Homo sapiens: one gene and its partners. The gene in region 2 interacts genetically with the main gene of each other region. Each region holds a gene or a part of one and is shown on either strand. Other genes may lie near its edges. The genes, in order: OGFOD1, EXOSC9 and XRN2.

The links.
Region 1: changes in EXOSC9 (region 2) and OGFOD1 together harm fitness less than expected from each alone (positive genetic interaction), as found in Homo sapiens cells (one large-scale study listed by BioGRID).
Region 3: changes in EXOSC9 (region 2) and XRN2 together harm fitness more than expected from each alone (negative genetic interaction), as found in Homo sapiens cells (one large-scale study listed by BioGRID).

Annotation. Positions count from the first base shown.
Region 1 is NC_000016.10:56,461,554-56,465,053, forward strand, and holds part of OGFOD1 (prolyl 3-hydroxylase OGFOD1), read left to right. Parts: intron 1-980; coding exon 981-1,081; intron 1,082-3,500.
Region 2 is NC_000004.12:121,811,233-121,814,568, reverse strand, and holds part of EXOSC9 (exosome complex component RRP45), read right to left. Parts: intron 2,987-3,336; coding exon 2,898-2,986; intron 1,336-2,897; coding exon 1,189-1,335; intron 704-1,188; coding exon 522-703; intron 1-521. UniProt on the Homo sapiens protein: Non-catalytic component of the RNA exosome complex which has 3'->5' exoribonuclease activity and participates in a multitude of cellular RNA processing and degradation events.
Region 3 is NC_000020.11:21,309,673-21,313,409, reverse strand, and holds part of XRN2 (5'-3' exoribonuclease 2), read right to left. Parts: intron 1-3,737. UniProt on the Homo sapiens protein: Possesses 5'->3' exoribonuclease activity. May promote the termination of transcription by RNA polymerase II.

The DNA of each region.
Region 1 (3,500 bases), on a different chromosome or scaffold from region 2:
TATAACTGTTTGGTTAGAAGCATATGGGTCACAACTTGAACTTGTAATCAGTATCTGAAGTGGGGTTGGGGGAGAGGGCACACTGGGGGCAGTCTCATGGGACTAAGCCCTTAACCTTTATTAATGCCTGGTAGATAGTGTCAGAATTGAATTGAATTTTAAGACACTCAGCTGGTGTCAGAGAATTGGTCAGTGTGGGGGGATAAGCCCACACATTTGGCATTGGAAGTGAAGTAAAGTGTGTAAAGAAAAACAGTTGAGGCCAGGTGCTGTGGCTCATGCCTATAATCCCAGCACTGGAGGCCGAGGCAGGCGGATCACTTGAGGTCAGGAGTTGGAGACCAGCCTGGCCAACATGACAAAACCCCATCTCTACTAAAAATATAAAAATTAGCCGGGCGTGCTGGTGCATCCCTGTAGTCCCAGCTACTCGGGAGACTGAGGCAGGAGAATCACTTGAACCCAGGAGGCAGAGGTTGCAATGAGCCAAGATCACACTGCTGTACCCCAACCTGGGCAACAGAGCAAGACTCTATCTCAAAAAAAAAAAAAGAAAGAAAAGAAAAGAAAAACAGTTGAGCTTTCCATTTTAGTGCTGAAAAACTTGTCTGAAAATCAGTAACTTGGACTAGACCACTGGTGTGATGAGTTGTTATGACAAAGGCCAAACTGCTGCCATGACAGGGCATACTTTAAATTTAGGAGAAAGAAAATACTGAGAAAACATGAACCATTAGAACAAAAAATAACAAATATAATGTAGGTAGAGACTTACATTTATTTTTCTGGGAACATTAGACTTAAACTATGCAAATTTGAACTGAGAAACATTTCTCAGAATGTCTCAAATGAGATCGGAGAATGGATCTCTTGAATACAATGTGATCTCCAGGAAAGAAAAGTTGTGGCCTAGATCCAAACAGTTGTGACCTAGATCCCACACTGTGGCATAACAAGTTATCTTTTGTTTACATTTCTAGGAAAATTCTGTTTGAAGATTTCCGGTCCTGGCTTTCTGATATTTCTAAAATTGACCTGGAATCAACCATTGACATGTCCTGTGCTAAATATGAATTCACTGGTAAGGAAGATAAAGGCCTGGTGTCTGTAAGATATAAAGGCTTTAACTCAGCATTAATGGAGAGATGGTATCTGTGTACCAAAACACTCAACTGAATGTCCCTGCAAAGCATCCGGATCTTCCTGATAAAGACCCAGTTCATAGACAGAAATACCCACCTTATTGGAAGGCATAAGCAGTGGTTGTCTTTCAGAATATGATGAAAGCTACTGACCATATTTTCAGCAAAATCCCCATAACATACATACACACCAACTGTACATACAATATCAAGAAATTCAGAGTGATATATAAACTCTATTCTTAGACTTCCTAAGGAACAACCATCTCCTTCAATGCCATTCTCCCTTCTCTTTTTTATTTTGAAGGCAATAAGTGAATGCATTCTTAAAGGAAAAAAAATCAAACAATATTGCAGGTATATGGTGTAAACCATGATAGCCTTCTTCACCTTCTCCCTGCTCCCTCTTCTCTTCAGAGGTACCTATTGTCACCAGTTTGGGGTGCATCCTTCCATTTCTCTTTCTGAGCATATAAATGGTTTTTTTGGATACAAGCTTGGTTTTTCACCCAGAAGGAAAAGGTTTTTTCTTTTTTAAATTTTACTAAATAAAATAATTCTTTGAGTGTACTCTCATACACTGTCCTGGAAGTATAGATGGCTCACAACTTTTAGAGGATGACTTGGTGATACATAGGAAAAGCCATATCATGTATCTTCATTTACTGCCATGTCATTTCTTTTTTGGGTTTTTTTTTTTTTTTTTTTTTTTTTTTTTTGGTTTGTTGGTTCGTTGGTTCGTTTTGAGACGGAGTCTCCCTCTGTTGTCCAGGCTGGAATGCAGTGGCGTGATCTCGGCCCACTGCATCCTCCACCTCCCGGGTTCAAGTGATTCTCCTGCCTCAGCCTCCTGAGTATCTGGGATTACAGGCATATGCCACAATGCCTGGCTAATTTTTGTATTTTTAGTAGAGATGGAGTTTCACCAGTTGGCTAGGCTGGTCTCAAACTCCTGACCTCAAGTGATCCGCCTGCCTTTGCCTCCCAAAATAGTGGGATTACAGGTGTGAGCTACCATGCCAGTATTTTTTTTTTTTTTTTACTTTGAAGTAATTTCAAACTTGCAGAAAAGTGGCAAGCATAGTACAAATAATTTATTTTTTCCTATTTTACTTGAGAGTAAGTTGTTGGCATGATGTTCTATGACCCCTGAATACTTCAGTAATTTCTACAAGGACATTCTCCTACATGATAATCATAAACCATCAGAATCAGGAAATTTACGTTGATGCCTTATTCCACATCAATGGATTATCTAATCCTCAGGCTCCATTCAGGTTTCATTATTTGGTCCTTTATAGCAAAAGGACCCAGTCCAGGATTGCATGTTGCATTTAGTTATAATATTGTCTCTTCAGCCTCCCTCAATCTAGAACAGCCCCTCCATCTTTCCTGGACTTTCATGATCTTTATGCTTTTGAAGATGTACAGATGAGTTATTTTGGAAAACTTGCTTCAGTTTGGGATTGTCTGATGTTTTCTCATGATTAGATTCAGGCCATATATTTTTGGCAGGATTACAGAAATTAATCCTGTATTCTTTTCACTGTATCAGGTGGTGCATGGTTTCAGTGTGTCACATTATTAGTGATATGAACTTGGATCACTTGATTAATGTGGTGGCTGACATCAGGTTTTTCCACTGTTCTTTTTCCCTATCAGTATATATTTTGTGGGGAGATACTTTAAGATTATGTAAATATCCCATTTCTCATCAAAGTTCGATTTGCTTATTTTAGCATTCTCTGATGTTTCTTGCTAAATTATTACCATGAAGGTTGCCAGATGGTGATTTTATAACACAATCATTTCTCTACATTTATTGTCATTCCACTCTAGAGAAGACCTTTCTCCTGATTTATTTATTCATTCGTTTATATTGGTATGGATTTATGGATTGCTGGTTGTGTAATGAGCTGTTACCAGTTACTATCATTATATTGATGCTCATACTGTCCCTGATTTATCAAGGAGAACCCCGTCAAACTGACTTCTGCGTTCTTTTGCTATGTCCCCATCATTCTTTTTTTTTTCCTACTTTCTGCAAAACAAGATTTTCCAAGCTTATCTTTGTATTTTCCATGCCAACGTCCTAGAATGACCTGGAGTTGGCCATTCTTCCAAAGAATCCTGGTTCCTTTTAGTGAAGAAAGATACTTAACAATCAAGATCTGGACTCTTAAGTGTCTTTGCTATTAGGGTGTCACTGCTCCCAGACCCCTTCAGTTTGAAGAGGTGGTGAATATCTGTATACATGTATATACACATGTGGATGCACACACATACATTTACATTTGGAATGTATTTCTTTTTTTTTTTTTTTAGACTGTCTCTCACTCTGTTGCCCAGGCTGGAATA
Region 2 (3,336 bases):
TATTTAGGCAGTATTATATGTTATGATATGGGATGGGCTTTTTGTTTCAGTCTAGAAACTACAAAAAAAAAGACAGCAGGGAGGAATAAGATCTTCAAGAAACTCATTCCCTTAAAACCCACCCACATACATACACACACACAAAATTTTTTTAATTAAAAATATCACTATCATTTATGCCAGTGTTCCACTACTCTACAAAGATATGCATATTCTTTTAGAAAGTAGCATTAGTATTGCAGCTAGCCACAATAATTTAGTTGAAATTTAAATCACAATATTTAGCCCCTCTAAAAATGCAATACTTACATCCCTATATATAACTACATATCTATATTCTCTCTATATAGTATCCTGTATGTTATTTATCCACTATACATCTCTATATAGCTAATATGCTATATATTACTATATACAGTGATAATATAAATATACACACATTTTATGCATTATATATATAACTATACGGTAATACTATATGTATGTAATATATAGTAAGTGTGCCATAAAGTGTCACCTACCTTGGCTTCCAATATCAGAGACTTCTACTCCAGTGTCCATTTTTATACCATCAAGAATGATAGCTTGATCACCACCGCCTTCATCATCTTCCTTCTCAGAGTCTTCAAGATCACCCCAGGAGTTTTCTACTCCCTCTCCAATTTGGGCAGTTCCAGGAGTCCATAGCACAGGTGTAGAAACACTTAACAAGTTAAGAAAACTGAGTAACAAAAATATTGCTATTTGATGAACTGTTGAAGATGAGAATGAAAGTTTTCTTCTTGTAAGATTGATTCAAGTGTGCCCCAAGTTCCTAGGGGAAAAAAAACTTAATATAGCTACACTATGGATGGCTGAACAATGAAGAAGAAAAAAAACTCAGGCAAGATTTTATGGATGCAATTAATAAGAAATGTGAAGAGACAGATTCTCTCAACATTTTAGTTATAGTACTAAATTAAATTGGTCCTTAAAATCTGTTTTTTCCAGGATAACTGAATAGAAGCTGAATGTTATACCATCAACAGAATATGACTCACATCTCTATCTTGTATTTTAAGTGTTTTCTCTAACAAAGTACAGTGTTTACAAAAACTAATTTCAGTATACACATCCTTCATATAGCCTAATATTATAATGCCAAGTGTTATGAATCTTGTTACTGCAAAAACCACCAAATAAAGATACACTTCTGAAGGAGGTTCTGCTTCAGCAATGATTTCTTCTGCTTTTTCTTCTACATCCGAGGTATCAATAGGGGCCTTTTCCATTTTAAATGCTGTGATCCTTTGATTTGCTATAGACTCTGCAAAACCAAACTTTCCACCTTCTTTCCTGTATGTGGGGGTTTTTTTGGTGGGAAGGAAGGGGGAGGAAGGTAACAGATTGGATAGAAGACAGGAAGGGAAAAAAACTATTATTTTATCCTTTGGTGGATGAAAAATATTGGAAGAGAGTTAGTTTATCTAACTTAACCTCACCAATTTATTATGCCTAACAAGAGTAAATAGTTAGCATAATCATTTATTAAACCACGTGCCAGACCATGTGCTAGGTGCTTAAAATATACTATTCTCTAACCCTCAAATCAGCCCTACCAGGTAGTGTTAATATCCCATATTATAGAAGAGGACACTGAAATGCTGGGTTATGTATCTTGCTTAAGATAGCACAGTAAGAGGTAGAGATGGAAATCAACCTGTTTCCTTCCATTAATTTGAGTTACTAGATTATTTTTATCCTAAGAAAATGTTAACTGCTAAAGAAAAATCTTATGTCTCCAGGCACGGTGGCTCACACCTGTAATCCTAATATTTTGGGAGGCCCAGGCGGGTGGATCACCTGAGGTCAGGAGTTTGAGACCGGCCTGGCCAAAACGGCGAAACCCCATCCCTACTAAAAATATAAAAATTAGCCGGGCATGGTGGTATGCATCTGTAATCTCAGCTATTTGGGAGGCTGAGGCAGGAGAATCACTTGAAGCCATGAGGCGGAGGCTGCAGTGAGCTGAGATTGCACAAATGCACTATAGCCTAGGTGACAGAGTGAGAAGTGAGACTTCATCTCAAAAAACAAACAAAAATCTTATATGATTTTTCAATATAGGTTACATTTAAATTGCAGAAAATATAACAAGTCCAATTTTCTAAAAACACATTAAATAGTATACTCAATTCAGATTAACAAATAAGGAAAGATCAAGTGTGAAATTTATATGGTTGCCCTCGTTCAAGGAAGATCCTTAAGAAAAAAAATATATTAAAAGACCATTTAGGGCCATTTCCTGTTCCCTGTGTTGTATCTTGGAGTCTGGATTAATGAAGACCTCTTGCTCTTAGGAGGGTCTTTCCTCTTTATTGTTTTAGAATTCTGGACTTGACCCAGACTTAAATTCCCATCTGTGATGCATTTTGCAATAAGTGGGTTTGATGCCAGCACTTTGAAAGATATCCCTCATAAAACAAAAGGACAAGAATCACCAGCTCCCACACAAAGTAAAAAACGTGAACCTAATTTTAGCAGTGTTAATAAGGAGCAACTATCCACAAGTCACTGCATCAATAATGCTTGTGTTATAACATCCTCTCCTCCCTAAGGCACAGGAGCAAGTGACACATACTTGTCTGGGAACCAGTTTCATTAATACTTTTATTGTATCCGTCCAAAGATGAGTAGCAATATCTGTTACCAGTTTCACTACCTTTCGGAGTTTTGGGTAACATAACTATACCATGGTATTTACACTTTTTAATGAGTCAATTTTAATTGAAATTGCCATTCTAACTTTGTATGTGAAATCAAGTTCATGCATAATAAAGCTTGCTTATACTAAAAAAAATAATAAAAATTTAAAAAATGAAAATAAAAGACCACTTAGTTCTGGAAAAGTTACTTACCTTACTTTTTGGTCATTCTCCAAAGCTTTCAATATTAGCTCTGTAATTTCTGCTACTTTCACACCAGCGATTTTACTGCATCTCAGAACCTATTTATAAAAGTGAATTCTGTTGTTTAAAGACAATAAACCAAATAGTTTTCTCTAATGAAACTAAAACCATGAAATTTTTCTACCTTTATAATTTAAGCCTGACTTTTCCAAACATGAATACAATGTAAACACAGATTAAGGCAAGATGTGAAAGTTGTTTTAAGATATGTGAAGGACTGTCACATCAAGGGAACAGACATAAAAACTTTCTTATACAACAGTATAAAAGATACCACAGAAGAGGCCACAGACACATATATGCTCCAGGATGCACTAACTTCCTTTTTCTGTGGGTAATCTGGGTAGTACTTGTGATGCTGGTAAAGATGATGATGATGATACCAGAA
Region 3 (3,737 bases), on a different chromosome or scaffold from region 2:
TACTTTCGCAGTCATTTGTGGACATGCACAGAGCAGCGAAAAATTGAGTCACCCAACATACACATTCCCAGCTGGCAACAAATGAGGACACGCAGCCTTCTGCTTTCAGCCCTTGCACAGAGATGACCAGAGGGGGAAACTGTAGGGAGCAGCACAGTGTAGCGTAGTGTGTTAACTTACACCAAATTTGGCCTGAGGATGGCTCCTTACTGATTCTTCACTTGAAGAACTGCAATATTACTTACATAAAGTCCACTAAGGAAAAGCCTAACTTAGGAGCATACTTCTGTAACAAAAAGCAGAGTCTCCGCCAATCGCAGCAGTCGAGCTTCAGTCAATCACAGGTTGCCAACTTATCTGGCCATGTTTAAATAAGCCAAAAGATTAAGCTGTTTCTGTACCTCACTTCTGTTTTCAAGAGCTCCCCAAACCTCTTCTGGTTCTGAGGGCCACTCAACTGGCAAACTGTTCATTGCTCAATTGAACTGTGTTATTTAATTTATCTAGGGCCCAGGCATGGTGGCTCACGCCTCTAATCCCAGCACTTTGGGAGGCTGAGGCAGGCGGATCGCCTGAGGTCAGGAGTTCAAGACCAGCTTAGCCAACGTGGTGAAACCTCTACTAAAAATACAAAAATTAGCCAGGCGTCATGGTGCACACTGGTTGTCCCAGTTATTTGGGAGGCTGAGGAAGAATGGCTTGAACCCAGGAGGCAGAGGTTGCAGTGAGCAGAGATTGCACCACTGCACTCCAGCCTGGGCAACAGAGCAAGACTCTGTCTTCAAAAAAAAAAAAAAAAAAAAAAAATCTTGGGGTTTGGTTTTAACAAGAAGCTCTGGCTCTCTAGAGTTTAGGCATTTAAGTCATTTTCCGATGGTCAGAAAGCTGATAAATGGAGGACTGCATGAGCCAAGCAGTTAAAGTATATGAAGTGAAGAAGCTGATGACTGAATCAGTAAAGAGTTCTTAATAAGTGAGCAAAGGGAATAAAATGAAATCATAAAAACACAACCTAAGGCCGGGCACGGTGGCTCACACCTGTAATTCCAGGAAGTCAGGAGATAGAGACCATCCTGGCTAACACGGTGAAACCCTGTCTCTACTAAAAAAAAATAAATAAATACAAAAACTTAGCTGGGCATGGTGGCAGGCGCCTGTAGTCCCAGCTACTCGGGAGGCTGAGGCAGGAGAATGGCGTGAGCCTGGGAGGCAGAGCTTGCAGTGAGCTGAGATCGCGCCACTGCACTCCAGCCTGGGCAACACAGTGAAACTCCTCTCAAAAAGACAAAAAAAAACACAACCTAAAAGAAGGCATAAGACTTAAGAAACTGAAACAATGAACAGATGAGACAGAAAACAAATAGTAAGATGACAGATTTAAATCTAACCATATCAATAATCTTTTTTTGTCTTTTGAGACAGAGGCTCGCTCTGTCGCCCAGGCTGGAGTGCAGTGGAACAATCTCAGCTCACTACAATCTCAGTATCCCAGGATCAAGTGATTTTGTGCCTCAGCCTCCTGAGTAGCTGGGTTTATAGGTGTTGTACCACTATGCCCAGCTAATTTTTTTTTGTTACTTTTTTAGTAGAGACGAGGTTTCACCATGTTGTCCAGGCTGCTCTCGAACTCCTGGCCTCAAATGATCCATCTTCCTTGGCCTCCCAAAGTGCTGGGATTGCAGGCGTGAGCCAACATGCCTGGCCATCAATAATCATTTTAAATATAAATGTTCTAAATGGCCCAATTACAAAGCAGACTAGAAAAACAGTTTGGTGGTTCCTCAAAATGCTAAACACAGAATTACATGATCCAATGATTCCACTCACAGGTACATACTCAAAAGAACTGAAAGCAGGGACTAAAAAAGATACTTGTACACCAATGTGCATAGCAGTGTTATTCATAATAGACTAAAGGTAGAACCAGCCAAAGTGTCCAGAGTGTGACATATACTCCCATATACAATGGGAGTATCATTCAGCTTTAAAAAGGAATGAAATTCTGAGACATGCAACAACATGGACAAACCTTGAAAACACTATGTTAAGAGAAATAAGCCAGACACAAAAGGAAAAATATTATGATTTCATTTACATAAGGTAACTAGAATAGGCAAATTTATAAAGATAGAAAGTGGGGAGGGGGACAAGGAGTTACTGTTTAACAGGTAGCGTTTCTGTTTGGGATGATAAAATTGTTCTGGAAATAGACATTGGTGACAGTTGCACAACAATTTGAACATACTTGGTTCCATTGAATTGTACACTTTAAAACAGTCAAAATGGTAATTTTATGTATGTTTTATCCCAATAAAAAGAGGGGGCAGAGATTCTCAAACTGTATAAAAAAGCCAGACCCGGACAGGCGCAGTGGCTCACGCCTGTAATCCCAGCACTCTGGGAGGCAGAGGCGGGCAGATCACGAGGTCAGGAGATCAAGACCATCCTGGCTAACACAGTGAATGAAACCCCATCTCTACTAAAAAAAAACAAAAAAATTTGCCGGGCGTGGTGGCGGGCGCCTGTAGTCCCAGCTACTCGGAAGGCTGAGACAGGAGAATGGCATGAAACCGGGTGGCGGAGCTTGCAGTGAGCCGAGATCGCGCCACTACACTCCAGCCTGGGCGACACAGCAAGACTCCATCTCAAAAAAAATAAAAAATAAAAAATAAAAATAAAAAAAAGCCAGACCCAATTGTTATGTTACCTACAAAAACGTCCACTTTAAACATAAAGATGCAAACAGGCTAAAATAAAAGAATAGAAAAAAACACACCATGCTGACACTAGTCAGAATAACTGGCTGTATTAATGACAAATAAAATAGATTTCTGAGCAAATATTAACCAAGAATAATGAAGGTCATTTCATAATAAGTGTATTATCCACCAAAAAACTAGAACAATGTTAAGCATTTATGCACCTAATAAAAGAGCTTCAAAATACACAACCAAAAACCAATAGAACTGAAAGGAGAAACAGAAAAATCCAAAAGTTATAGTCAAAATTTCACAGCAGCAGAAAATGTATCCTTTTCAAATACACATAAAACATTTATAGAGACCATATTCTGAACCAGTCTGATAAACTTCAACAGACCTCAAATTAAATATGATCTCTGATAAGGGAATTAAATTAAAAATCACGAACAGGAAAAAATACCTGGAAAATCTCCCATGTGTGTGAAAATTAAGTCACACTCTTAAATAACCAGCGGGCCAAAGGGAGTTTTAGAACATATTTTTAAGTGGATGAAAATGAAAATACAACATGTTAATATTTGTGGCACACTGTTTAAACAATATCTAGAAGGCAATTTATGGCACTCAAGATCTATATCAGAGAGGAAGAAATGTCTCAAAACAATGACCTCAGCTTCTACCTTAATAAACAAGGAAGAGAAAAAACAAGTTAAACCCAAAGTAAGCATAACAAATACATATAAGAGCAGAATCAAAGAAATAGAAAACAGAAAAACAATAAAGAAAATCAATGAAACCAAAAGCTAGTTATCTGAGAACAGTGTAGCCAGACTGATAATGGGACAAAACAAAGAAAGTAGAATTACAAGTATCAGGAATGAAAGAGGTAACATCACTACAGATTCTAACAATATTAAAAGGATAATAACAAGTTAACAGGAAGAAAAAAGAAAACAAAAGAGAAGTAAAAACAGGAGTGAAAACATTTTAATAACAAAAAAAAAAGGATAGTAAGAAAATACTATGAACAACTTT